4 linked regions of the Homo sapiens genome follow. The protein of the gene in region 1 interacts with the protein of each later gene in a pairwise test. Each region holds a gene or a part of one and is shown on either strand. Other genes may lie near its edges. The genes, in order: MIPOL1, CDK18, MYLIP and NEBL.

Region 1 (7,025 bases):
TAGAAATAAAACAAACACCTAGCAATTAAATTATAACCAAAAACAAGTATGGGATTTATAGTTAAAACTGTTAATAATTGGTTTTTCAAGATATAAAAATAGCATGCCCTCAGCCTGGCATGGTGGCTCACACCTGTAATCCCAGCACTTTGGGGGGCTGAGGTGGGTAGATCACCTGAGGTCAGGAGTTCAAGACCAGCCTGGCCAATGTGGTAAAACCCCATCTCTACTAAAAATACAAAAATTAGCCAGGCATGATGGCACGTGCCTGTAATCCCAGCTACTCGGGAGGCTGAAGCACAAGAATCGCATGAACCTGGGAGGCAGAGGTTGCAGTGAGCCAAGATCGTGCCACTGCACTCCAGCCTGAGCAACAGAGAGAGACTCCATCTCAAAAAATAATAATAATAATAATAATAATATCATATCCTCAAATAAGTTTAAACTGATAAAAACAGATTAAAGCTTTTCTGATATTAATGAATAGTGTAGTTGTCTATTGCTACCTATATTAGTCTGTTTTCACACTGCTGATGAAAACATACCCAAGACTAGGCAATTTGCAAAAGAAAGAGGTTTAATAGACTCACAGTTCCACATGGATCGAGAGGCCTCACAATCATCATGGAAGGTAAAAGGCACATTTCACATGGTGGTGGCAGGAGAGAATGAAAGCCAAGCGAAAGGGTTCTATAAAACCATCAGAACTCACCTGGACTTATTCACTACCAGGAGAACAGTATGGGGGAACTGCCCCCATGATTCAAGTATCTCCCACTGGGTCCCTTCCACCACATGAGGGAATTACGGGAGCTACAATTCAAGATGAGATTTGAGTGGGAATACAGCCAAACCATATCATTCCGCCCCTGGTTCCTCCCAAATCTCATGTCCTAACATTTCAAAACCAATCATGTCTTCCCAACAATCCCCCAAAGTCTTAACTCATTTCAGCATTAACTCAAAAGTCCACAGCCCTAAGTCTCATCCAAGACAAGGCAAGTCTTTTCCACCTGTGAGCCTGCAAAATCAAAAGCAAGTTAGTTCCTAGATACAATGGGGGTACAGGCATTGGGTAAATACAGCCATTCCAAATGGGAGAAATTGGCCAAAATGAAGGGGCCATAGGCCCAATGCAAGTCCAAAATCCAGCAGGACAGTCAAATCTTAAGGCTCCAAAATTATCTCCTTTGACTCCATGTCTCACATGCAGGTCACACTGATGCAAGAGGTGGGTTCCTACATCTTGGGCAGCTCTGCCCCTGTGGCTTTGCAGGGTACAGCCTCCCTCCCAGCTGCTTTCACGTATCAGTGTTGAGTGTCTGAGGCTTTTCCAGGAGCATGGTGCAAGCTGTCAGTGGATCTACCATTCTGGGGTCTGGAGGATGGTGGCCCCCTTCTCACAGTTCCACTAGGCAGTGCTCCAGTAGGGACTTTGTGTGGGGGATCCAATCCCACATTTCCCTTATGCACTGCCCTACCAGAAGTTCTCCATGAGGGCCCCATCCCTGTAGCAAACTTCTGCCTGGATATCCAGGCATTTCCATATATCCTCTTAAATCTAGGCGAAGATTTGCAAACCCCAGTTCTTGACTTCGGTGCACTCACAGGCTCAACATCACATGGAAGCTTCCAAGGCTTCGGGCCTGCGCACTCTGAAGCCATGGCCTGAGCTCTACATTGGCCCCTTTCAGCCAAGGCTGGCGTGTCTGGGACACAGGGTACCAAGTCCTTGGACATAGCATGGGGACCCTAAGCTTGGTCCATGAAACCATTTTTTCCTCCTAGGCCTTTGGGCCTATGATGGGAGGGGCTGCCATGAAGACCTCTGACATACCCTGGGGACATTTTCCCCATTGTCTTGGGGATGAACATTTGGCTCCTTGTTACTTAGGCAAATTTCTGCAGCTGGCTTGAATTTCTCCTCAGAAAATGGGTTTTTCTTTTCAATTGCAGGGTCAGGCTGCAAATTTTCTGAACTTTTATGCTCTGCTTCCCTTATAAAACCGAATGTGTTTCAGGCACATGTATGTTTATATGGTACTATTCACAACAGCAAAGACTTGGAATCAACCCAAATGTCCAACAATGACAGACTGGATTAAGACAATGTGGCACATTTACACCATGGAATACTATGCAGCCATAAAAAAGCATGAGATCATGTCCTTTGCAGGGACATGGATGAAGCTGGAAACCATCATTCTGAGCAAACTATCACAAGGACAGAAAACCAAACACCGCAAGTTCTCACTCATAGGTGGGAACTGAACAATGAGATCACTTGGACACAGGGTAGGCAACATCACACACCAGGGCCTGTTGGGGGATGGGGAGCTGGCGGGGGACAGCATTTGGAGAAACACCCAATGTAAATGATGAGTTGATGGATGCAGCAAACCAACATGGCACATGTATATACCTATGTATCAAACCTGCACTTTGTGTACATGTACCCTAGAACTTAAGGTATTAAAAAAAAAAAACTGAATGTGTTTTAACAGCAGCCATGTCACCTCTTGAAAGCTTTGTTGCTTAAAAATTTCTTCCACTGGCTGGGTGCAGTGGCTTATACCTGTAATCCCTGCACTTTGGGAGGCCGAGGTGGGTGGATCACCTGAGGTCAGGAGTTCCAGACCAGCCTGGCCAACATGATGAAATCCTGTCTCTACTAAAAATACAAAAAATTAGCTGGGCGTGGTAGTGCATGCCTGTAATCCCAGCTACTCAGGAGGCTGAAGCAGGAGAATCACTTGAACCCAGAGGTGGAGGTTGCAGTGAACTGAGATCGTGTCACTGCACCCCAGCCTGGACAATAAAAGCAAAACTCCGTCTCAAAAAAAAAAACAAAAAACTTATTCCATCAGATATCTTAAATCATCTCTCTCAAGTTCAAAGTTCGACAAATCTCTGGGGCAGGAGCAAAATGCCGCCAGTCTCTTTGCTTTTGCTACAGTTCTCAACAAGTTCCTCATTTCTATCTGAGACCACCTCAGCCTAGATTTTATTGTCCATATCACTATCAGCATTTTGGGCAAAGCCATTCAATAAGTCTCCAGGAAGTTCCAAACTTTCCCACATTTTCCTGTCTTCTTCTGAGCCCTCCAAACTATTCCAGCCTCTGCTTGTTACCCAGTTTCAAAGTCACTTCCACATTTTCAGGTATCTTTTCAGCAGCACCCCACTCTACTGTATTAGTCCATTTACTGTGTTAGTCTGTTTACTGTGTTAGTCCGTTTTCACGCTGCTAATAAAGACATACTTGAGACCAGGCAATTTACAAAAGAAAGAGGTTTAATGGGCTCGCAGTTCCACGTGGCTTGGGAGGCCTCACAATCATCGTGAAAGGTGAAAGGCACATCTCACATGGCGGCAGCAAAAAAGAATGAAAGCCAAGCAAAAGGGGTTTCCCCTTATAAAACCATCACATCTCATGGACTTATTCACTACCATGAGAACGGTATGAGAGAAACCACCCATGATTCAATTATCTCCCACTGGATCCCTCCCACAACATGAAGGAATTATGGCAGCTACAATTCAAGATGAGATTTGCGTGGGGACACAGGCAAACTATATCACTACTTAACACATTAAACCCAAATTCAACAGCTTAAAACAATACACATTTGCAATCTCACTACTTAACACATTAAACCCAAATTCAACAGCTTAAAACAATACACATTTGCAATCTCACAGTTGCTAAAAATCAGAAATTGAGTGTTGCTTGGCTAAGTCCTCCAGCCCAGGGTCTCTCAAAAGGCTGGAATCGAAGTGTCAGCCAGGGGTGCAGTCATCTCAATGTTCAACAGGGAGAGGATCTGCTTCCAAACTCTCTCGGTGGTCGTTGGCAGGATTAATATCCCTGAGGGGGCTGGGCGCAGTGGCTCACGTCTGTAATCCCAGCACTTTGAGAGGCCAAGGTGGGCGGACCACGTGGTCAGGAGATCAAGACCATCCTGGCTAACGTGGTGAAACCCTGTCGCTACTAAAAATATAAAAAATTAGCTGGGCGTGGTGGCATGTGCCTGCAGTCCCAGCTACTTGGGAGGCTGAGGCAGGAGAATTGCTTGAACCCGGGAGGCGGAGGTTGCAGTGAGCCAAGATCGCACCACTGCTTTCCAGCCTGGGCGGCAGAGTGAGACTTCATCTCAAATAAATAAATAAACAAATGCCTGAGGTTTTTTAGACTGAGAACCTCAGTTCCTTACTGGCTGGAGGTCCCCTTCAGTTCCTTGACAGGTGGGCCTTTTCACAGGTCAGTTCACAACATGACAGCTGACTTCCTCAAGGTGAGTGAGCAACAGAGTGCCAGCAAAAAGGGAAGTCATAGATTTTGTAATCTAATCTGAGAAGTGACATCACACCATTTTTGCCATATTCTAGTAGAAGTGAGCCTCTAGGTCTAGTTCACCCTCAAGAGGAAGGAACTACACAAGAGTGAATACCAAGGTCATTTTAGAAGGCTCCCTATCACAGGTAGTATAATGGAAAAAGCAACTGGAATAAAAACCAGAACAAAAATAGGTTCTAGTAACTATGTGACTAAACTGAGAAGGTAGCCTAAATGACCCCTACGGTCTCTTGGCAGTCTTTTGAAAAAGATTACCAGAGATTAGAGATACTTCATCAAAAGGCCTCATTTCACAAAAGAAAGCTGAGTTCCAGGAAAAGTTAAAACAAACAGGTAGTGAGCCACACTTATTTTGCTCTTATGCCCAGTGCTCTTTCCACTATAGTAAACTGTTTTTGTAATTAATGCTCTAAAACAGTTCTATCTTCTCTTTATGATAGTCTCAAAATCTAATAAATTCAATAGAGAGAATAATAATACAATGCTGACAAAAGCAGCTACAATTGATTAATCTTGTGCATTATCTCTTTTTCTCTCATCAACCCTAAAGCCATCTCTAGATGGTACGTGAAGTTGCAAGTGGAAGTGAGTCATCTGCCCATCCCCAGTCCCAGGTAGCTGGACGTACTAGTAATAAGATTTGCTGGAAATAAATTATAAAAGCAACAAATAAGCAATAGACAAATACATTCACCTTGAACACACAGTCACCCTAAATATGGTAAACAAGATTAAATGTAACCTAAATAAAGTATCTAAAAACTGCAACCAGAAAAGGCAAGGTTTGTTAGTAATGAAATCCTGGAAAATTGTCCCAGAAGTCAACAATGGCAATGTAGTGCAGGCAATATGCAGGGGAGAAGGTACGGTCAGAAGCTAATGACTACAATTGGACTCACAAATACATCCTTACTAATATGAAAGCATCACCTAAGGATGATCGTACAAATTAAATATTTGTGCCACATAAATTCCCTATTTGCTCCCTTATGAAGTCTGAAGCCCTGGAGGGAGGGGACTCCCTTGTCTGAGAATCCCTCCTACTGGCACATGCCCTTTATTACCCATAATAATTTGTAGTGACTCCAAGCTGATTCAAGGAGTGCCATGAAAAACACGCATATGAACACAATTGCTTTGTGTGGGACTTATAAAGCAGGAAGGTATTTACATTAGTCATTGTGTGTGTGTTTGTGTGTGTGTGTGTGTGTGTGTAATGAAATGCAGTATGTACTGGATCCAGAATTTCTATATGAGAAAAGCTTACTTAACTGCAATGAATTGATAGTGGAAGGTGAGGCCCCTCTTAAATCTATCTGCATAACAATCAAGTAAGACTAAAAAAAACAATTATACATATCAAAGAAGGATCACACTGATGAAATTACCCTCACACCCTTCATTAGTATTAGCATATATCTAAATGTGCACTAAATTCACTTCTATAAATTACTTAAAAACAAGAAATGGGCTGGTGCAGTGGCTAATGCCTGTAATCCTGGCACTTTGGGAGGTCGAGGCAGGAGGACCTGAGGCCAGGGGTTGGATACTAGACCGGACAACAAAGGTAGACTCTGTCTCAACAAAAACAGAAAACAAAATAGCTAGGTGTGATGTTGAGCACCTGCAGTCCTATCTACTTGGGAGGTTGCAGCAGGGAAGACAGCTTGACCCCAGGTCAAGGTTACAGTGAGCTATGATTGCACCACTGTACTCCAGCCTGAGTGACAGAGCAAGATCCTGTTTCTAAAAGCAACAACAAGAACAACAACAAATACCTAGAAAGTGTTAGCTAAAAATGTTAACATGGATGGTGGGCTGAATGGTATTAAAGTAAAATTTTGGGCAATACTGAGCAAAAGGCAGGGGGCCAAGAGTAAAAGATGAACTGGGCAGCCCAAAGAGACATTTAAGGAAGAAAGGGCCTCCATCCTGGGAAGAGGTGTCACAGTTGAGCTTCACGGCCCAAGTCAATGGCTATTACGTCCTATATCATGAGTGTACTCAATCACTAGATAAAAATGTCAGAAAACCCAAGATGGAACAGCTCAAAGGACAAAATGCACCTTAAAATATTACAATAACTATATTATATATTTTTACATATTTTTACTCAAAATATCCAGAACTGTCTAGACATTCATCCTTTTCTTTCCTAGCCTTTTAAATAATATCAAAGAAAGACTGTCTCTTCTTTCTTTTCTCACTTCTTACCTGTCTTTTGTTCTTCAGATTTACAGGGTGAGAAGAAAGTGGGAGAAGTAAAAACAATTCAGACAAGAATCAAACTGGCCTCTAATTAGTCTTAAGGTAAAACTGGTAAACCAAATAAAGTATGTTTAGAGATCTGAAATCCAACACCAAAACACTATAACACATGCTGCTTTACAATACTGGCCAGGTGTGGTGGCTTGTGCCTGTAATCCCAGCATTTAGGGAGGCTGGGGAAGGAGGATCACTTGAGCTCAGGAGTTTAAAACCAGCCTGGGCAACATGGCAAAACCCCATCTCCACAAAAAAATATTAAAATTAGCCTGGGCATGTTGGTGTGTGCCTGTAACCCTAGCTACTTGGGAAGCCGAGGTGAGAGGATCACTTCAGCCCAGGAGGCAGAGGCTGCAGTGAACCGAGATCACCCCACTGCACTCCAGCCTGGGTGACAGAGGTA
Region 2 (7,025 bases), on another chromosome or scaffold:
ACTGTGTGCCCCACTGGAAGAGAAGTACATAAATCCATTCTCCTGGGGAACCTTGGGGCGGAGTCACAGCAGCCATTCATAACCACCGGCGGCTTGGCTTGCAATTTGGGCTGATTTTTCATTTTACACCAAATCATACACTTGTTCATTTTAACATAAAAATAGTACTTCTCTTTCAAAATTTTCACTGGGACTGATGCTTGGGGAAGATTCATCGTATTTACTATAGGGGCCCTCCTGGACCCTCTGGGTCTCTGGTAACCCCCCACAGGCCTCTGGGGGAGGATTTCAAATGCACAGGCTTGGGGGTCTATTTAAGCCAGGGAAACCCTAACCTATTATATTTCAGACCTAATTTTTTAACATCCATTTCAGCAGGATGTCACAAGGCTTTTAGGCAAAGGAAGTTAGGCAGTTCTTCCCCGAGGCCCTTGGGGAAGCAAAGGAGAGTCTGGAGGTGTGGCCAGGCCTGTCCTCCCCTCCTCGGTCCCCACAGTGCTCACTCACCACATATCAATGGGGGTGGAGTACTCTGTGGATCCCAGCAGCACATCGGGGGGCCTGTACCACAGGGTCACCACCTCATTGGAGTAAGTCTTTGTGGGCACTGACTTGGCCCTGGCCAGTCCTGGGGGCAGACATGTCACTGGACCTCTGTCCACAGGTGCTGTGGGGTTGACTGCTATGCCCTCCCCCACTGCACCCACACCCTGAGGCACCCCAGTAGCGTCAGACCCCCACCCTAGCCCCAGCCTCACCAAAGTCGGCCAGCTTCAGCTCCCCCCTCTCGTTGATGAGCAGGTTCTGGGGCTTCAGGTCCCGGTGCAGGATCTTGCGGTGGTGACAGTAGGCGAGGCCCCGGAGCAGCTGGAACATGAAAATCTGGGGGAGGGGGAAGAGAAATGTGGGGTGGAAGGTGGCCCTGAGCCTCTGCTCCAAGGCTGGGACCAGGATGGGGGCAGGGGCTTGGCAGTGAGGTCAGCACAAGCCCCTCATTCTCCTGCACACCCTGCAGCCCCCATCCTGGACCCCACCCACACCAGGGAATCCCATCCAGAGGGGAGGACAGCAGGGGTGCAGAGGACGCAGTGAGTGTGGGGGAGGCCAGCGAAGTCTCAGTCAGGAGCACGGGGGTCAGGATGCCCGCCTATGTGGAGACATATGTGCTTGATCCCTTTTTTTTTTTTTTTTCTTTTAGAGTCAGGGTTTTACTCTGTCACCCAGGCTGGAGTGCAGTGGTGTGATCATGGCTCACTGCAGCCTCAACCTCCCGGGCTCAAGTGGCCCTCCTGCCTCAGCCTCTCAAGCAGCTGGGACTATGGGTGCACGCTACTGTGCCCGGCTAATTTTTCAATTTTTAGTAGAGATGAGGTCTTGCCATGTTGCCCAGGCTGGTCTCAAACTCCTGGGCTCAAGCCATCTTCCTGCCTTGGCCTCCCAGTGCTGGGATTACAGGCGTGGGCCACCATGCCCAGCCTTGATTCTTTAACAAACACCAGGAGAGGTCATTCATAACCCCGAGCTTCCCCAGAAGCCTCCCTGCATTTTGGCAGGTAGCTCACACTCCCATTTGACAGACTGGGAAACTGATGTTCAGAGTTGAGAGTGGGTTTTATACCAACAGCTAGACAGTGGCAGACAGTGTGTGTCTGTTCTTGGGGTAAAGCGCTCAACCCAGTTCCTGGACTCGTTGATGGCATTGCCCTCTCCCTCTTTCCTACGTGGGAAGGTCTGAGCCACCTCAGCAGCCGGATCCCTGGTGGTGAGAGTGGGTCCCCACACTGGGCTTCTGGACAGGTGGCTGCCAAGATGGGGGGACCCTGCCCCCGAGGCCTCACCTTGACGTTGTGCATGCTCATGAGGTTCCCACAGTGGTCCAGATACTGCTTCAGGTCACTGTCCTGGAACACAGAGCGTGGCTCAGTCCTGCCCCACGCTGACCCCTGGCCAGAAGCCCAGACACAGGCTGAGGAGAGGAAGCCCCTCCCTGGGAAGGGCCCACGCCCACTAGTGGGACAGGTCCCTGGCTCGAGCCACCCGTAAGCCTGAGCTCTTGGCCCACTCCTGCACGGGAGCATCTGAAAATCTGATTCCAGAACAAGGCCTGGGTCGCCCTCATCCCACTACTCCCACTCCCTCAGCTTCCCACTCCCCTACCCACACCCCGTTTCCACCACAAGAGGGAGAGGCGGCCAGCCCCAGCCGGACTCTCACCAGGTACTCAAACACCAGGGTGAGGGACCGATCTGTGTGGATGAGGTCATGCAGGGTCACAATATTGGCGTGCTTCAGGTTCTTCAGCAGAGACACTGTGAGGAGACAGATCCACCTGGGTCCCTAGGACCCCATGTGTCCCCATACCCTCTTTTCTTGGGGTCAGCGCCAGGAGTCCCATTCCAGCAATGATCCTCTACCCCCAGCTCCCACAAGGGTGCAGGCTGGTGAACCCCTCCTCCTGAAGCCCCCAGGGGAGCGTGGGAGCCTAGGATGCTGTACCCTCTCGGATGGCAGTGCAGGGCGCTCCCTCCTCGTGCTCCAGCCGGATCTCTTTCAGGGCCACAAGGTTCTCCGTCAGTTTGCTGCGCCCTTTGAAGACTGTGGCATAGGTGCCCTGGGATGGAGGGCCACAGCGGCCCCAGGCGCATTCAGGTGCTGCTGGCCTCTGTCCAGTGCCTCCCCATTTGTGCCTCTGCCTGGGCTACGACTGGGGCCTGAGTGCCCTTCCTCCCTTTACTGACATGCTGTTTCCTCCAAAGCCTACTTCCTCCAGGAAGCATCCCTAATGACTCCCCAGTCGGAGTGAATCCGTCCTTCCTCTAAGCCCCAGCACGCCGCGTGCCCGTCTATGATAACACCAGGTTTTTTCTTCCTTATACGATGCTGATGTTTACACAGAGGTCACCTCTTTGGGCTCCTGGAGGGAAAGGGCTGTGTGTTCCCTCTCTCTATAAACCTTCACCCACCCCAGGCCTCTGCACAGTGACAACAAAAATAGCTAAGTGACACAGCACTTCCTATGTGCCAGGCATTGTCTGTGTGCCGTACATAAGCTGATTACAGTAACCTGCCCAATCCTCACAATAACCCTATGTGATAGGACAATTACTGTCTCATTGGACAGAGGAAGAAACTGAGGCACACAGAGAGGTCATGTAACTTGCCAAAGGTCACAGAGCTAGTAAATGGTGGAGCTAGGTTTTGAACCCAGGCAAGAAGGACTTGCAGAAAAAAAAAAGACTGGATTCTGCCCAGGGCCATGGCTACTCTATCCTCACGCCCTCCTTCAGGATCTGAGCTCACTTCAATCCCTGCCAAAGCCTGGGCCAGAGCGCACAGCCAAGACTGTGCACCTCTATGGGGCAGGGGCCAGGAGAGGGCCAACCAGAGAGGGCCGACCAGAGAGGGCCGACTAGGGAGGTCTGCCCCTCCTCCAAGCCATCCTGCCTGGCTATTCGGAGAAGACCAAACCCAGCGTCTTACCTCTCCCAGTTTGTCCAGTTTCACGTATGTTTCCAGTTTCCCAAAGCCAATGTCTGACTGAGAGGGAGAGACATAGAATGCCGTGAGCTTGAAGCCCTTAGCAGCTCCACAGACATGACGCCTCCCCCAACTCCAGCCTCTGGGAGGGAAGGGATGAGACTCCATGGTGGAAGGGGCTCCTTTTCCCTTTATCCCTGTGATAAAGGACAGAGCTCGTGAAAGTGTGAGTTTCTTCCTCCCAGGACAGCCAAGAGTGTAGAGCCCAGAGCTGTGGCACCTGGGATTGTTGCACATCTTGACTACCTGTGTCTCCGACTGAGACCACGAGCTCCTCCAGAGTGAGTGCTGCCTTTTTTCCCATTGTACCTTGAGTGTCCAGTTCAGAATCCACCTCTCTGACTGTGTCTCTCATCAGCGCACTTCTAGCTCAGGTGTATCCAACCCTTAACAAGACGGATTCCTGGACCCCCTAGCCGGAGAGGCTGATTCTATAGGTGTCTGGAGGTAGAGTCTGTGTTTTGTAAGATGTCCCAAACAGCTCTGATAGGCAGTTAGGACTGGAAGGCACATGCCAGCTGGCCTATTGATCTTAACCATGTGGAGACCGTGGGACCCACTGTGGGCTTAGAGTCCCATTCCAGCCCAAGTGAGACCCATCTAGGAAATGGATGTTGATGTAGGAGGACGAGCTAGTTGAATGCACTCAAGCCAGCAGGTGGCACCAGAGGCCCAGGAATCTTCCTCGAAATCCCATCTAGGCCTCAGCTGGGACTGATATGCCCATGCTGGGGAGGGCATATCACCCCACCTTGTGTCCTCTGACCCTCTTGGGACTCACCAGGGAGGCCCGGCGGGACATGCGGCTGAGCGGCTTGGGCAGATCTGGGCTCTCCATCTGTAGCTTCTGTAGGAATTCCTGGGGCAGGCGGATATCCATGGGCAGAGAGAGCCTCTTGCTGACGTCCTGTGGTGACAGGGATGAGATGGGGACACCACTGTTGGTTTCAGGGTAGCTAGGGCTGTGGGGCTCCAGACTTTCACTCTGGACCTAGCGTTCCCTGCAGAACAACCATTCAGAGCCCAATCACAGGCTGTGACCCCAGGCTCACAGCTGCTCCCAGTGTGTGCTCAAGACATACACGTGAACACCCGGGGCTGCTGTGTGACCTTAGCACAGCCAGGTCACTCTCTGCCTCTCTGGGCCACAGTATCACCATCTGTGCAACATCAGTCTCATGCCCTTACAGGCACCGATTCTGTAAGTATATTTTTTCATATACTTGGGCATATGTGTGTGGATCAAATAGTCAAATTGTCTAGCCCTTGCTAAATTCAGGAATGTTCTAAGCACTTGGCATAGATAAACCCATTTAATCCATGATGACCATTTTAAAGACAAGGAGACCATGGTGCACAGAGGTTGAGTAACTTGCTCAAAGTCACAGAGCTAATGAATGGCAGAGGTGGAATTTGAACTCACAAAGTCTGGCTGTAAGGCAGCTGCCCTCCTGTGCACACCCTTGTGCGTGCATCCTGCCACCTGCCGGGGCAGAGCTCCAGAGGCCCTTACCTCCATGGAGAAGCGGCGCTGGTTCTGCCGCCGCTGGAACTGCACGCCAGGGGAGAGCTGCCCCGGCTCCTCCCCGCTGTCTGTTGGGGAGAAGGTGCTGCACTCCTGCGGGGGGTCTCTGCCAAGAGGACCGAGCTGCAAGTCTAAGAGGGACAGGCGTCAGCTCCCCTCCCTGCCTCTCTGTCCTGAGGGAGAGAAGGGTAGCCCCCCTCCCCCAGCGCTGTGCTCCTCCCCTAAGGCCAGTGGGGAGGGGGTGGGCGGGGAGGGGAAGGTGACTGGGGAGTGTCTGGTAGGTGGGAGAGGTGCTGGGTGGGCCCAGACCCCTCACTCTCATTCCGCCGGTTGTGGAGCTGGTTGAATTGCTCCGTGAATTCAGCCAAGGATTCTTCAATGGTCTCAGTGCGGGGCACTGACAGGGAGAAACGGCGCTTAAAGTTCTTCATCTTGTTCATGATCATGAGGGACTGGGCAGCCGGGTCCTGAGATGGGAAGTGTGAGAAGAGCAGTTGAAAAGAACAAGGCAACCAGTCCAGGTCTCCACCCACTGGGAATTCAGCTCTCTCATCAAGCTCTGTCGCCCTGTATGCCACCATCACTGGGAGCCAGGGTTGTGTCTTCTGCAAAGTTTGACCCCTCTGAGGGTGGGTGTTCACCCTCTTCTTCCCAGTCACCTTCTTCCTCCCAGTGACCCTCAGCACTGCCTCCACTGCCCACCGCCCGCCCCGCCACGCCCTGTGCAGTTCTCTATGGACCACCTAGTCCAGCAAAGTATTGGTCATAATAGCAGGCATGATGTGCAAAGAGGATCCTGAAGGCCCCCCAGACCTAAGCCCTTTAGCTGCTGGAGGTCTAGAGAGTTCTGGGGGAAGGGCTGGGGTGGCAGGGAGGGTGCCAGAACCAGGCAGTCCTTGGACCAGCAGAAATTTACCAACTTGTGTCCAAGGGCCTGAATGTGTCAACAGCCAATAAATCTTACTGACCAAGGCCCGTAAACTGAATGTCAGCTTGGCCAACACCCTTGGGACATGATTGGGTCCAAACCTCATTTCACCTCTGATACTGACACCTGAAGGTCTCTGCTCTGGCATGCCCCAGGAGGCAAGAGGGGAAAAAGAGGAGGAAGGGAAGAGTGCATCAGAGCTGGCCAGCTGCACCTTCTCTCCAGCTGAAATACAGGAGGTCAGGAGCAGTGGAAGGTCTCAGGGGAAACACGGAAGCTTGCCATTAATAGAGTCGAGCCCTAGGGAAGATGAGGCTTGATCCCTGCAGGCCTCTTCCCATGCCAGAGCCCTCCAAGCAGGCAGGTATCCCCTACCGAGAACACCATGGAGGAGCGGGGTAAGCTGCTCTGCCCACCCCCACGGTCCTGTCCCCAACCATGAAAGCTTTCTTCTTCAGGCTACCCAGCTCCTCGTGCCCTCTGAATTAGAGGATGCCCTGCTGGCCACCCAATGAGACCCATGCAACTGCTTCTTCCTGCAGACCCTCCCTTCTCCCTCCTGCCCTGAAAACCCAGAGCAGCGCTGTCTCACCTCCCCTCCACTTCCCTTCATGGTTTCCTACACGCTCAGTGCAGCCCCCCTCTCATCCTGCTCTGCACACACTGCCCTTGAGGCCTCACAAGGGCTTCCACCCATGCTGGCAAGAAGGCACCAGGGGGTGAGCCCTATGATGGGCCGCCCTGCACCCGCTCCCAGCTGTTACCCATGCACCAGCACCAGGCACAGCCCACTCCTGGAGGATGCTCTCAGCCCTGCGACTGGCCAGCACCTAGTTGCCAAGGCGACCAGGCCCTTCCCGAATCCTCCTGGTTTAAGGGATTATGGGTCAGTAACATGTTGGCTTTGCTTAATGATCACATCCTTCTGTCCTCAGCCAGCCTGGAAAGGGTCCTCTGTCTGGCAGCGCATGCTCCTGGCTGCCCCCAAACACAGCTCAGTGGTGGCCCTCCAGCTGCCCTGATCCTCATGGCTGG
Region 3 (7,354 bases), on another chromosome or scaffold:
TTTTTAAATTCTATATTCATACAGCTGACCTTTTTTTTTCCACTATGCTGGTTAATTTTAATGCTATCTTTAAAAGATGAGAGCTAATTGAGAGAAAAAGAGAGCAGACACAGATAACTTGGGCATCTCTCTGGCTTCAATCACTGCTCAATCTAATATAGTTCCCACCCTGGGTGTTCAGAGTCTCTTATTTGGAGTTAGACCCAGCTGGGGCTTGAAACTGGCTCCAGACATTCAGCAGCATTAGCAGATGGTGGAATCCTCGAGGAAGTAATTCTACTGCGGGTTTTCTATTCCCTAACCAGGTCTTTTGAGCATAATGTGCTTTCTCACCAGCTCACTCAGCCTCCTCATTCTGTAACTAACCAGTCTCTCCTTAGCTCTACTCAAGGAATAAATTACAAAACAGAGATGGAGAGAAAAGACAGAGAGAGAAAGCGAGGAGAGAGAGGGGTCATGGTCCAGTATATTCCATACATGCTAGTGGGAAGCCAGTATTTTTTTTTTTTTTTTTTTTTGCTTCCCAGTCATAAGGATTTCTTACTGCCCGCCCCTCCCACCCCCAAGTGCCATTTTCCTATTTTTAGCTTTGTTTTTGTTTTAAGAAATCCTTCTCTTCAGTCTTATCTGGGGATTCTTAATTTCAAAACAATTGAAATCTTCACCAACCATCCTATAGCAGAAGCACTATCTGGGTTTGGATTAGAAATATCCCTGTCACGAGCACAGTGGCTCACACCTGTAATCCCAACTCTTTGGGAGGCAGAGGCAGGAGGGTCGCTTGAGCCCGGGAGTTTGAGACCAACCTGAGCAACATAGCGAGACACCCATCTCTACAAAAAAATACAAAAATTAACTGGGTGTCGTGGCACCTGCTTGTGGTCCCAGCTACGCTGGAGGCTGATGCGGGAAGACTGCTTGAGCCCAGGAGTTCAAGGCCGCAGTGAGCTATTTTCACATCACTGCCTGCCCTCTAGTCTGGCAACAGAGCAAGACTCTGTCTCTGAAAAAAAATTAAAAAAAAAAAATTCTTGTAAATCTTCTACTTCCAACTATTGTGCAAATGACAATTGTTAAAAATAGGTCGGGGCGGTGGCTCACACTTGTAATCCCAGCACTTTGGGAGGCCAAGGCGGGCAGATCACTTGAGGTCAGGAGTTCGAGACCAGCCTGACCAACATAGCAAAACCCTGTCTCTACTAAAAAAGCAAAAAATTAGCCGGGTGTGGGGGCGCGTGCCTATAATCCCAGCTACTCGGGAGGCTAAGGTAGGAGAATTGCTTGAACCAGGGAGTCGGAGGCTACAGTGAGCCAAGATCATGCCATTGCACTCCAGCCTGGGCAACAAGAACAAAACTCTGTCTAAACAACAACAACAACAACAACAAAACTATGAAAAATGTGGGGTTTTGTTTGTTTTTTGTTTTGTTTGAGAAAGGGTCTCACTCCCTTCGGCCAAGCTGGAGTGCAGTGGTGAGATCATGATTGACTGAAGCCTGGACTTTCTGGACTCAAGCCATCCTCCCACCTCAGCACGCTGAGTATCTGGGACTACAGACACATGCCATCATGCCTGGCTAATTTTTTATATTTTTAGTAGAGATGGGGTTTTGCCATTTTGCTCAGGCTGATCTCAAACTCCTGGGCTCAAGGGATCTGCCTGCCTCGGCCTCCCAGGGCTCTGGGATGACAGGCATGAGCCACCACGCCTGGCCAAAAAGTTTTAAATAAAATAAACATGTCAGATTTTACCTATGCTTCTACAAACTATTTTACAAGCTTAGATTTTTTAAAAAAACAATGAAATCATACTTGCAAAAGAAAAATCCCTGCTAAAACCAAAAATATAAGTTATTTTTAAAGTAGTCCACAAAGTGGGTATTTGGTTTGGGTGTTTGCTTGTTTTATTTTTGTTTATTTTTTTTTTCTTGGCCAACCAATATTTTCCCGTTCTACTCATTTCCACACCTGGTCCCATTGATTCTATGAGTTTCCAGTTAGCCAGCTTTAGTTTCTATTGTTCATAAACAAAAATACTAACCAATATAACTGGTCTCCCTATTGCCCCTCGCCTCTTCTTCCTCTTCTGAAACTTCTAGCAATTAAGCATAAAGTAGACAAGGAATGAACCAAACGCTATCTTCCAGATAAATTCCCCAGATTATTAGTAAACTGGAATTCAGGGAATAGGCACTGCAGTTAATACAAGAAGGGACTGTTTCAGCCCACAATAGCATGAGGTGTATTTATAAGACAGAAAGATGTGAGAGTGCACCTGTTCCTCTGCAACAGTGGGGGTTAGGACTTGGACAGTTTACAGTTTTACTCGGTCAGCTTTAGCAAAGAACTGTGTGTGGGAGGATCCCTCCTTTTTTTTTAGCCTTGGGCTCTGATATCGTACCTGGTTGTTCGGAAATAAAGGCCACTAACAGATCCTTGGGACTCGTGAAGGGGGGTAGGGACAGGAAAAGTCATCATTAAGCAGTGAAGGCACTGAACTTATAGCTCCCCTTACATACACGGGGACATTCAAATGCTTTTGTGAACGTTATTATCTTTGCTGCGCTTCCCAACAATGCTGGGTGGAGACAGAGCAGATATTGCCATCTCCATTTTACTGTTGACAACACCAAGCTTCAGACAGATGAAGTAAGTTTTCTCTTTTTTTTTCTTTCGTTGTTTTCTTTTTGTTGTTGTTGTTGTTTAGAGACAGGGTCTTTTGCTCTGTCGCCTAGGCTGGAGTGCAGTAGGGGGATCACAGCACACTGCAGCCTCGAACTCCCAGGCTCAAGTGATCCTCCCACCTCAGCCTCCCATGTAGCTGAGACTACAGGCAGGCGCCACCACGCCTGGCTAATTTTTTGTATTTTGTGTAGAGATGGGGTTTCGCTGTGTTGCGAAACCGGGCTGGTCTCAAACTGCTGGGCTCAGGCGATCCTCCTGCCTCGGCCTCCAAAAGTGCTGGGATTACAGGTGTGAGCCATCGAGCTGGCCTGAAGTAAGTTTGCTAAGTTTCCACGGCTGAAACCCACATCATCTGGCTCCTATAAAGAAATCAAAAAGGTAGGCTATGTAATATATTGGCAAAGAGGAACAAGCGGTAAATGAGTGAAGGGTTGTAGACCTTTAATAGCTAATATTGCAGTAATGCCACCTGTTAGGTCAGGAGATGAGCACCTTACCTTAAGACGAGGACAACATCTGGTTGCCTGTGAGAAGGGACAGGCAGGGTATCAGGTGCTGCACAAATGTTTAATGAATGAGTGAGATAAGACAGGAGGTAGAATGAGCAACCTGAGAGAGGGCCTGGTACCCTGTAAGGCGTTTTGATTCAGCAGAACGAGTAAGGAGAAGCCCTTCCGGAGTGTAACACACCAGCACTAGACCAAGACACCTGGCTCACTGGTCAGCTGCAAAAACTTTCATACTCAGATTTTGTTTTTCTCAATGATGAGGTCTTAATAAGGAACAACAATTCTGCCTCCAAGCAACCCACTGTGGCTAATCCTGGTGGAAAAGAGTTTTCTTTTTCTCTTTTTTTTTTCTTTTTTCTTTTTCTTTTCTTTTTTTTTTTTTTTTTTTTTTTTTTTTTGAGACAGGGTTTTTTGCTCTTCTTGCCCAAGCTACAGTGCAGTGACACAATCTCAGCTCACTGCAACCTCCGCCTCCTGGGTTCAAGCGATTCTCCTGCCTCAGCCTCCCAGGTAGCTGGGATTACAGGTGCCCGCCACCACGCCTGGCTATTTTGTTTTTTTTTTTGTATTTTTAGTAGAGACGGGGGTTTCACCATGTTTGCCAGGCTGGTCTCGAATCTGACCTCAGGTGATCCACCCATCTCGGCCTCCCAAAGTGCTGGGATTACAGGCGTGAGCCACCATGCCCGGACGAGAACAGTTTTCTTTAGGCTTTGGGTTGCTCCTTTTCCTTTTTGCTTTCACAACCGAAATGCGTGCTCAGAGTGATCCAAGATATTTGAAGAACAGTGGCAGCTTGGAGGTGTTTAATCACCGTAAATTCGAGACGGCAGAAAGGCGTCCCCGCCTGGAGCCCCGGGCGATCGCTCACTCTGAGCAGCGTCGCCCAGCGGACAGAGGCGGCTGGTGTGTTCCGGGGTCTCCCTCCCTTCCCGCAGCACTCGGCGCCCGCAAGCTGCCACCTCCCGGGGCGGCCAGGGAAACTCAGCCGGCTCTGGGAGGCGGGGGCCGCGGTCGAGGGGCGCCGCTATTGGCTGATCGGGCGGGGGAGGAGGGGCAGGGAGGCCGTGATTGGCGGGGACCCGAGCTGAAGGGGGCGGGGCCGCTATATCAGCAGAGTCCCTGTCGCAGCGCAGGCAGTTGGGCTGCTGGAGTGCGGCGCCACCGCGGAGGACAGGGGCAGCTGGCGGGCAGCGGGTGAGGGGGTGGCGGGGACGCGAGTGGCGGCCGCGGGGCCCCGGACAAGGGTCCGCAGAGCTGCAGCCTTCGAGGGCCAGCCCTCTCCGAGTCCGGGGCTGGGTCCCACCAGTGACAAGGCGGCAGCCCCGCGCACACCAAAGAGAAGGCGGCTGTGGCGGCAGCGGCAGCCCCAGCCATGCTGTGTTATGTGACGAGGCCGGACGCGGTGCTGATGGAGGTGGAGGTGGAGGCGAAAGCCAACGGCGAGGACTGCCTCAACCAGGTGAGGGCGAGGGGCAAGAAGGGGCCCCGGCGGGTCCCGCGAGGCCGAGGGGCCTCGCAGCGACGCCTGGCACTCTGGCGCGCCCCCTACTAGGGGCCGGGAGGCACTGCGGCGGCAGCCGGGGGGAGCGCGTCCCCTCCTCTCCACGGGCGTGGGGCGCGCGGTCTCCTCCTGGCGCGCGTGGGGTGCGCGGAGAAAGCGCGCAGCGGGGGTCCCCAGCGCTGAGGGCCGGGCGCAGCCCGCAGCCGGGATCCACCCCCCAGCGCCCCATCATCCCCCCAACCCAGCACTTTCCCGGAAGAAGGCGGCTCCGCACACCTGCCGCAGGTATGTGCGTGATGCCGCCTGTCGGGTCCCCGCGGCGCCTGGCAGTGCCACCCGCGTGCCAGGATGGGATGGAGTGGCTCGAAGCAGTCTCGGGCCCCAGGGGTTCTTGGCAGACAAGCCGGGCCCTTGTCTCACGCTGCTTCTCAGGCTGCTGCTCTCAAATGCACCGTTCACCTGCATCTCCGGGTTTGCGGGGGACGGGAGGAATAGGTTTGGGTCATCTACTGCTCGGTTGTTTTTAAGCATGTGTTTCCTTAACAGTGAGGGAGATCGGTGCCAAATAGTGCAGAGGTGGTATGGCAGACAGCACATGTGATCCCAGGAAAACGCTGTGCCCTCAACCCCTCTAGCTCTGAGATGTTTGGAAAACCGCTTGTGAAGCTTAGCTGACACTTGTGGCGTGTTCCCTCAATGTGTTTGATTTTTGGAGTCCAAATGGTTAAAATTGCCCAGATAATAAGTCGCCAAAAATCAGCTGTGCAGAGTATGCTGGTGGAGGGAATTCCGGTGATTGGAATACGAAGGAAAATACCCTGTAGTTTCCCCTCCTCATCTTTTGGAAGGCTACTTTTGAGGACTCCTTTTTTCTCTATTGCAATTGGTCATGCCCTAGACGTTAAAAGGAATTATGAGCCTCCATACTAGAGCTCGTGGTTTGGTATCATTGGAGCCGTGGAACTTTGTTTTTCCAGTTTAGATCAGGAATTGTAACACCATTGAACTTTGTAAAAAGCACCAGCAATCTTAGCCTCAGGGAGCCGTTGGGTTTGCTTTGATACGTACCATTTGCTCATCCAGGCTGCATTCCTTTTTGTTTTAGGTGTGCAGGCGACTGGGAATCATAGAAGTTGACTATTTTGGACTGCAGTTTACGGGTAGCAAAGGTGAAAGTTTATGGCTAAACCTGAGAAACCGGATCTCCCAGCAGATGGATGGGCTAGCCCCTTACAGGCTTAAACTTAGAGTCAAGTTCTTCGTGGAGCCTCATCTCATCTTACAGGAGCAGACTAGGTAAAGTGAGCTAAAATAAACCAATGTCAAATTGACCTTTGGTTCCCTTTAGAAGGGCCGCTGCACCTTCCCAGAGATACTCACAGGCAAGTTTGTTTTGATGCGGAGTTCCATCTTAACTTAGGTTTTCCATGCAGGTCCTTTTGTTGAGGTGGAGGGGGAGCTACCTACTTGGTCTGAGTGCATTTTCCAATCCTTCTTTTAGTTTTTCTTGTCTTTATAAACTTGATGGGTGAGCAGGGTTGAATTCTTACAAACACTTGAGATAAGTGCTACCCCAGGAAAAAAAAAAAAAAAAAAAGAAACCACCCTACCCGAGTGACTGACTTCCTGATAGCAGCATCTAATGCCCGATAGTAACCTCTGCCTCAGCAGTGTTACTATAGGTCATTGCAGACTGTTCTAACAGAAAGCAGGAAACAGTTCCTCTTGGGTTACTTAAACTTGGTCAGTTTCTTCAGCCTAGTGTCAGATTACAGTGTGCAGCCAAGAGCTCTGTTTGACTTCATGCAGAATTTTTAAAGTTTTTAAGTTTCTTGAAAATGTAATTTCATGAACTCTTCTAAGGCTACTGTAACTGAATTCCAACCCACAGATATGTTACACACGATTGGTGAGTATAGATTGAATTTATCTCTCTACGTTGTAAAACACCACCAACAGTGGTAGACAACTGAAGCATGTGGTCTCATTTTTCAAACAAAATATGTTCTCCCCTGGACTGACTCTAATACTTGATTCTCAAGAATGAGCCAAACTAGGAAATTGATATTTAATATTTATTGAAAGGCAGGAGACTTCAATCTTACAGTGGCATATCAAAAAATTAAAAAGGAAAACAGCTACTTTGAAGACATAGCAAGCTTTGGATCTAAGTTCTAATGTTTTTCATAATTCTTTGGCTGAGAAATTTGCCATGCATATGAAAAATGTGATTCTAAAAATTTTAAGTAATGATGAATGAGCATTATCCTTTAAGAGTTTTTTACATGACATTTGCTTGTTTGTTTTACCAAAGGACTGATAAAGACTCATTTTGAAATACTTATCATTTGAATTTGAAATTTCCACTTTGCCTTGTAATCGAGCTTTAAAGGTTGAGGCAGACGTTTAATTTTGTTTCTGAATGAAGATGGTATATTGAGTTCTTGGTACTCCTGAAAATATCTTGCAAAATATTCAAGTGATTGCATGCTTAAGGATGTTTTAGCTGTCTGTATTAATCAGAATAGACTTTTTAAAATTATTATTTAAAGCCGATTTGTGAAAGCTTTGCGCTTCACTGTCATAACTTGCAGTCGAATACAAGATATAACACAACATATTGGAATTTTCATTGTGTAGTCCTATTATGATTTTG
Region 4 (7,025 bases), on another chromosome or scaffold:
GGGCTATTTTTGGTAGCCTGAGATATCCTAAAGGAAAAACACAATCTACAGAAAAGGAAATTCAGGAAACACTTGTCTAATTGATGAAGCAGATCTGTGGATCCTGAATTCAACCTTTTTTTTTTTTTTTTTTTTTTTTTGAGACAGAGGCTCACTCTGTTGCTCTAGTTGGAGTGCAGTGGCATGATCTTGGTTCGCTGCAGCCTCAACTTCCCAGGCTCAAGCAATCCTCCCACCTCAGCCTCCTGAGTAGCTGGCACCACAGGTGCATGCCAACAAACGGCTAATTTTTGTATTTTTGGTAGAGACCAGCTTTTGCCATGTTGCCCAGGCTTGTCTTCAACTCCTGAGCTCAAGCATTCTGCCCACCTTGGCCTCCTGAAGTACTGGGATTACAGGCCTGAGCCAGAGTGTCCAGCCCCATTATCTCTTTATGTGGCTTTTAACAAGCTATTCAAATATTCTCTACTTAGGGATCATATATCAAATTAGAGAACAGTTTAATATTTACTATAAGAATTTCATCCATGTAAGCTGTCTAAATGAGATTAAGATTTGCTCTATAAATTGCATTGAATGGGACTCAGAAAACAGTACCATGTGACTGACATAAACCTGCGTGTCCTTTTCATTTTCTGCAATTTCAACAGCAACTACTGACAGCACATTAATCAGTTGCTTTCAACTTTCATTTGGTATTTAACACCCATGATGAAAACGTTTTATTAAAACGCTAAGTAGCTTTTTTCCAGTTATATGTTTTATCTACAAAATCATGAAACACTTTAGAAAAACCCTACCTCACTCTGGAGCTGTGTAACTTCTCCTGCAAAAACACTGTCAATTGTGGCTGGCATCCGCTTATAAAGAGAATTAGAAAGGTCAGCTTTAATGGTGCCTTTGTATTTTGCCTGGGGGAAAAAAAAACAGGAAAAAAATAAATAAATAAACTTCCATTTTTTTAAACTGTGATTATAAGTAGAAAAGAAGAAACTTTCTCCCAAAACAGAATTGATTTTAAAATCTGCAGACCATTTTAATTTTAGATACCAGAGCTGACAAACTCCAGGATTCTGAAGAGATAGAAATAAATCCAATTTATCATAGAGAACGCTTTCAATGAGACATGCAAGGACATAATGGCTTTCTATTTAAATGCAAGCACATTTCTAAAAGTAAATCTATTTGTGTATATTGACAGTTTCATGCTGGATGAGTGAGCAAACAATTCGAGTTGTTCCAGAAAATGCAAGTCGTTAGAATCTACTATCTAGAACTTGACAAAGGACAGTGTTCTTTTATTCAGGTCTTCTCAGCCTCCTCCTGCTCCAGGGGGAGAGGGGAGTGAGTGCTTTTTTGTTGTTTATGTGCCTACCCACCTCTAGCCTGCACTGTCTTTAAGCCATCTCAGTCACTACTCTAAAGACAAACACTCTTTCCTCTTGGGAAAACTAAGGTTCAAGGGAACACAATAGATTGCTCACTTCCAATATTTTGCTCTGCAATTAACTCCTTCAGGAAACATAATCAATAATTGAGAACATCAAGTATTTATCTGCACGGGAGAATGGAACATAGCTAAGACAAACAAACTATGTTCTTCCATTATCTGCAGATGAGTTCCTGATGTTCTTCCTGCTCAGAGCTAGATTTCAGTATTGATTTATTGAGCACAGATCCTGTGCTAGCCTTCTGCTACCACACTCTTTGGATTTTGGTACTTAATGAAAGAAAACGTACTGATTTCATTCAAAATTGTTTCGCATTAGCAGAAATAATCCCAAGGACATCCAGTTGATCTTTTTCCAACATAATTTATGAAACACTAGAGGTCAGTCATTTACAACACTATTTCATTTCCGTTTCTTTTCAAACGTATCTCTTCTAAGTGATCTATTCACAGACTACAGTAATGCCTCACCACAGAAATCATCATCGTTAACATTGTGCTTTACAATGCAACATAAACTGTAGTTCTAAATGCTCTCAGAAAGAAACTACATAATTTTTCAGCTGGAAAATGAATATAGCGTATTCCTCAGTCTGTGATTTTATAATAGGTATCACTGTTGAACTGAACTTTATCCTACTCCAAAATAGTTTAAATACATTTAAAATTATTTATCAAAGATATCACATTTTAGAAAACTGGTAAATCTTATTTATTTCCAAAATGATATTCAATCATTTATCTCTGATATATCTATTAGGAAACAAAATAATGGAACTTCTAAAGTGAACTATTGTGCCAGTGCTTTTACTTATTTAATAAAAAGATGCCTTTTCAAGAGGAATCGTATATAAATAAGAAAGATTTAGAGTCAAAATATAGACATATATAATAAAATGTATGAAGCATACATAGTAAAATCTGTCAATCTATATGAGTTAAATGACAGCGCATCACATTAGATAATTATGTAGCTATTACTAACATTCAGTAGTGCTTTTGAAAATATTATTCTTCATCTCTTTAATGCACAGACTTTCATCTATATAATAAGAAAAAGATAAATGCAAGCCAGTTTGCAAGCTTTTGATACCTTACCTCAGAAATAAAAGCACCGATATTTTTTACATGGTTTAGCATAGGACTGTCAGTCACAAATGTACACTTATCCTTGGACTTTTTAAACTCTTCTTTATAACGGATCTAAAAAAGAGAATGATTTACATAAGAAGAGAAAAAGAAAAACAATTCTAATGGCCTTTTTTGAATGATAATTAGGTTGATAAAGTCCATTTACTGAAGTAAATACTCAAGTGTGAAAGGGACCTCAAAACAAGCCAAGTTAAATAAACGGCTATCCAGCACAGGATTGCAAAGATGATGAGGCATAGTGAGGAAAGACCATTCTTTAGATAAGCGAGGGTCCAGTTAAGCATCAACACCAGGCGTGCTGGCTACGGGTGATGGGTCCTGTTTACCCAGCCAGCCCAGTGCAATTAGCAAGCATGTGCCATCTCGCTCCTACAAGTGTCCTGGTGTTTTGTTGCTTTTAAGCCTTGACACATAAGCCTTTGGCCAAACAGAAACACAGCTGCCTACCTCAAGGTAGAAAATAAGTAGTCAGCATGACAGATGTGACCAATTAAGAAGTAGAGGCGAAATTAAATGGGGATCACTATTACCGTTATTACCTAGACATGCTTGATTAGAGGAAGAGGCTTAAATTGTGGCCAACGTGGGCTTCCTGTTACTAATTCCTCCCAATTTATGAGCACCCATAGGCTTCCCAATCCTCCTCCTGAGCGCAGAGAAGAACTGAACCTGCCCAGAAAGCTTGCTATGTGGTGGAGATCATTCCAGAAGGCCTTCTTGCTGGAGATCAGCAAGACAAAGCCCAGTGAGGCTTAGCTAAACCTGCTCATCTCTTCTCTGCAACTCACAAGTCAAATGACTCACTCTCTTCCCCTTTGGGGATAGGCCAGAATTGTTATGCCGGGGGAAGACCCGGGTGGATATTTGAGCCCAAAAGAAGTCAGGAAATGTGGAGAAGGACCTAAAGTATAATCACACTGTCACACTAATTGCTGCACAATCTGGAAACTGGGAAGGCAAAACTATGACTCATTGAGAAGATGCAGGTAATTTGCTAAAAGTTGTATCACTCTGTAATATGCTCGTGTTTATCCTCCCAAGACCATAAATACTTAAACTGAAAAAGTGTTCCTGTTTCAGATGATAAATTATATGTTCTCCCTAATTATAACCCAAAAGTGGAGCTGAATTGTATATACTACCTGGTTCTTAGAGGATGTGAATAATATTGATGTTATACACTAATGGTACATGGAGATTTTCCCATATGCAAGCCTGATTTGACGGGCATTACTTAACCTGTGGTAGAACTAGATACAGATTAAGTGAAGTTATTTCAAAATCCCATATTTCACTGCTGTGACTCTTGGATATCAGATGCCTACCACATTAAACATTTGCTTTATTCATGAAATCAACACGAGAACATATTTATCTTATCTGAGCACTAAATTACTTTTTTTTCTTCTCAGAGATTAGCCATAATTTTAGGTTCCTGCAAATCACCCTCCTCAGCCACTAGTAATTAAACTGTTAATGGCAGTATGATAAATAGTAGGCTATTTTGATCATATGGAGAAAAAAGTATCTCCGTTATATAATTAAGTGTGAGAGAAAATAGCCTATCATTAGGCTTAAGTTTGACTCATTATTTTTATCTTTTGCCACCATCTATTCCCCATCACATTCACATTCTTCACTGCAGTGGTATGTGCTTGTGGCTACAGCCTCCTGATAAAGTCTGACACATGCAGAACGTTCAGGACAGGAGGACTGGATAAGGGTGAGGTATTTACTTCTTCTGTTAGGCAGACAAATAGCTCAGTCTTAATTGTAGACTCTATTTTTTTTTCTTGGGTCTTTATTAAAAAGATACACATATTTGTATATTTTAAATGAAGGTGTATTTAAAATTTAAGATCCTTTACAATTGTACAATTCAAGAGAAATTGTACAATTTGTTAGAAGTCACACACAATCATGTGTGATTTCAAGTGAATTGTGCAATATGAATGACAATAAGCAAAGAATGTTAGATTTTTAAATACATAAGGAATATTTATATAAATATTAGATACATATTAGTAGCCTTCCTACACCAAGATAACAGGAAATGATCATTGAAAGGGAACTATATTGGTCAATGAAACAAATCTTAGGTAAAATAAAAATCACTGAATAGATTGCTATATTTTATTACAGCCATGTCTACATCTTACAATTTCGGGTTGACACCATCTATTGGATAGACTGGCCACTCCCATTATCTCCTATTAAAAGAGCCCAGATGGATTAATGAGAGCAGCCAGGCTCCTGCCCAGCCCCAGAGGACAAGCTGATCTAAACCAGGCATGGTCATGCCATCCAGTGTTTGGCCTGGGGAGCCACACTCTCTGTGACTTTAGTGGAAATCTTCCCAGAAGTGCTTCTAGTGTTTCTGGTACAAAGGGAGAGATGCTGCACAACCCTGTGACATTCTGTCTTCCACATTTTTCTTTCTCAATCAAAGGGAAGGCAGCAGCAATGATGTCATTACCAAGGAATAAGCCACCATACTAATGACGACAGAATAGAAGGAAAGGAGCCTGGGAGACTGATAACACCCATAGTACCCAGCCTGAACTACCTACCTCCGGGCTTTATATGTGGAGGCTGGGGAAACAAAAACCTACTTGTTAAGCCATTGTGTTAGAGTTTTCCTGTTTTTACAGTCATCTGCACTCCTACCGAATACACAACCCAACACCAAAAGACAAAAAGGGCAAAATTGATGACTTTATGATCATTAAGATGTCCCAAACATTGACCTTCTCTTTTGCCCTCACCCACAAATCCCACGTCTCCATTACAATTAGGATGAATTTAGTGCAGGGTCGCTTCCTCCTCCTGGCCAAGTTTGTTTGAATGAGTATGAGATTAGCTAAAGGCTGAAATCGGATGACAGACATGGAGATGTTTGCGGATCTTTCCTTTCACAAGAATTCTTAACTGAAAGTATCTGGAAAGGCTCTTCACAAGTGAAATCATACAAGTTAAATTCAATACACCCTGGAAGGAAAAACAATGGCTCCATCATTATTTAACTGGGCTGGACATAGCTAAGATCACTCTCCCAGGTTTTCTGATACCATCTAAGCTTTCTCTGGAGGAGTAACCACAGAATTTAATGTTTTTGGCATTGAAAGGATTTACCCACAACAACGTTCATTTGCCTGGAAAATATTCTTCCTGCTGCCATGCAGATGAACACCCTAAACAGCCTTGAACTAAACACTGAGAGGCTGCATGCAGATGTGGTCCACCTGCTCTGCAGAAGGCTCTTTCTGCCTAATCTACAAGAAACATACAAAAGATTCCCTTTTGCCCAATCTTTTTTATGACTCCCCATCAGAAGACTACTAGATCCAGGATTCTGAATGCTCAATAGAGAGGATAGGTTTAACTTATTCAAGGGATTGATTAGATAATGTTAGGTTAGACTAACAGGAATAAATATGACAGAGAGAATATCTGTGAAAATATATCTGAGAAAATAATAGTATTATGTGATTAACAGAAAAATAAAAGAGGCTGCCTCAGAAGACCAGCTGTTCTTCAAGACTGGGAAGTGAGTTGTGCAAAGAGGAACCCCATAATGTGGGTAGAGCAAGTGCAAAGCAGAAACTAGGTGGGGGGAGAAAGAGAAAGAAAGAAAAATGCCTTATACTGATGCCCAAAGTGAAGCCACTTGACCTGAAAAACGGACATTTCTCTCTATGGAGAATTCTAAGCAGTGCAGGCTTCCTAGGGCTGATCTCTAGGCCAATCTTGCTTAACATTTCTATAAAATTGTCTGACAAGGGGATGATATAGCAGTGTCTACAGGTCTGCTGACTCCAAGCTGTCTCAGTAAGGGAAACGGCAAACTGAGATGAACTTCAGAAGTTCTCAAAGGGCCAGGCAAGAGGGCAGAAAACTACAGATTAGATCTAGCCCTAGTGTGGTTAAAATAATTCAAACTATTATTTAAAGATGATGGGTCCTAAGCTATCAGCTACAGGTCAGAAATTAGGAATGAAATGGCTCTGATGGTCTACAGATTATCAAGCTGATCTAACAGCTTTCTGCAGCTCCCAAGTCTAAGAAACTCTTCATAGCATCATAAAGGGTGCTAGAAGCTAAGCAAAACATCATCCTGCTCTACACGTGATCTAGACCGTCCACATCTGTACCACTCTGCACAGTTCTGATTATTACATATTGGTTATTAAGGATATATGAAAGCTGGAAGAAGTCCAAAGAGTAACAATTAGGCTGCACCATGAAGAGAAGTCCATGAAACCATCCCTCTCATCTACAGAAACGAAGCAGGGCCAGCCCGGTGGCTCACACCTGTAATCCCAGCACTCTGGGAGAACGATGCAGGAGAATCACTTAAAGCCAAGAGCTTGAGACCAGCCTGGGCAACATAGTGAGACTCCATCTCTACGAAAAAGAAAATGAA

Evidence for each region.
Region 2: the proteins of MIPOL1 (region 1) and CDK18 interact in binary tests that used the Homo sapiens proteins (3 or more experiments, as listed by UniProt).
Region 3: the proteins of MIPOL1 (region 1) and MYLIP interact in binary tests that used the Homo sapiens proteins (3 or more experiments, as listed by UniProt).
Region 4: the proteins of MIPOL1 (region 1) and NEBL interact in binary tests that used the Homo sapiens proteins (3 or more experiments, as listed by UniProt).

Annotation. Positions count from the first base shown.
Region 1 is NC_000014.9:37,200,932-37,207,956, reverse strand, and holds part of MIPOL1 (mirror-image polydactyly gene 1 protein), read right to left. Parts: intron 1-7,025.
Region 2 is NC_000001.11:205,521,651-205,528,675, reverse strand, and holds part of CDK18 (cyclin-dependent kinase 18), read right to left. Parts: intron 5,530-7,025; 5' UTR 5,509-5,529; coding exon 5,379-5,508; intron 5,194-5,378; coding exon 5,051-5,193; coding exon of another isoform or gene 4,961-5,050; intron 4,445-4,960; coding exon 4,319-4,444; intron 3,538-4,318; coding exon 3,481-3,537; intron 2,612-3,480; coding exon 2,497-2,611; intron 2,310-2,496; coding exon 2,215-2,309; intron 1,902-2,214; coding exon 1,839-1,901; intron 883-1,838; coding exon 759-882; intron 629-758; coding exon 508-628; intron 1-507. UniProt on the Homo sapiens protein: May play a role in signal transduction cascades in terminally differentiated cells.
Region 3 is NC_000006.12:16,124,754-16,132,107, forward strand, and holds the start of MYLIP (E3 ubiquitin-protein ligase MYLIP), read left to right. Parts: upstream 1-4,332; 5' UTR 4,333-4,569; coding exon 4,570-4,656; intron 4,657-5,803; coding exon 5,804-5,994; intron 5,995-7,354. UniProt on the Homo sapiens protein: E3 ubiquitin-protein ligase that mediates ubiquitination and subsequent proteasomal degradation of myosin regulatory light chain (MRLC), LDLR, VLDLR and LRP8. Activity depends on E2 enzymes of the UBE2D family.
Region 4 is NC_000010.11:20,887,297-20,894,321, forward strand, and holds part of NEBL (nebulette), read right to left. Parts: intron 2,654-7,025; coding exon 2,549-2,653; intron 912-2,548; coding exon 801-911; intron 1-800. UniProt on the Homo sapiens protein: Binds to actin and plays an important role in the assembly of the Z-disk. May functionally link sarcomeric actin to the desmin intermediate filaments in the heart muscle sarcomeres.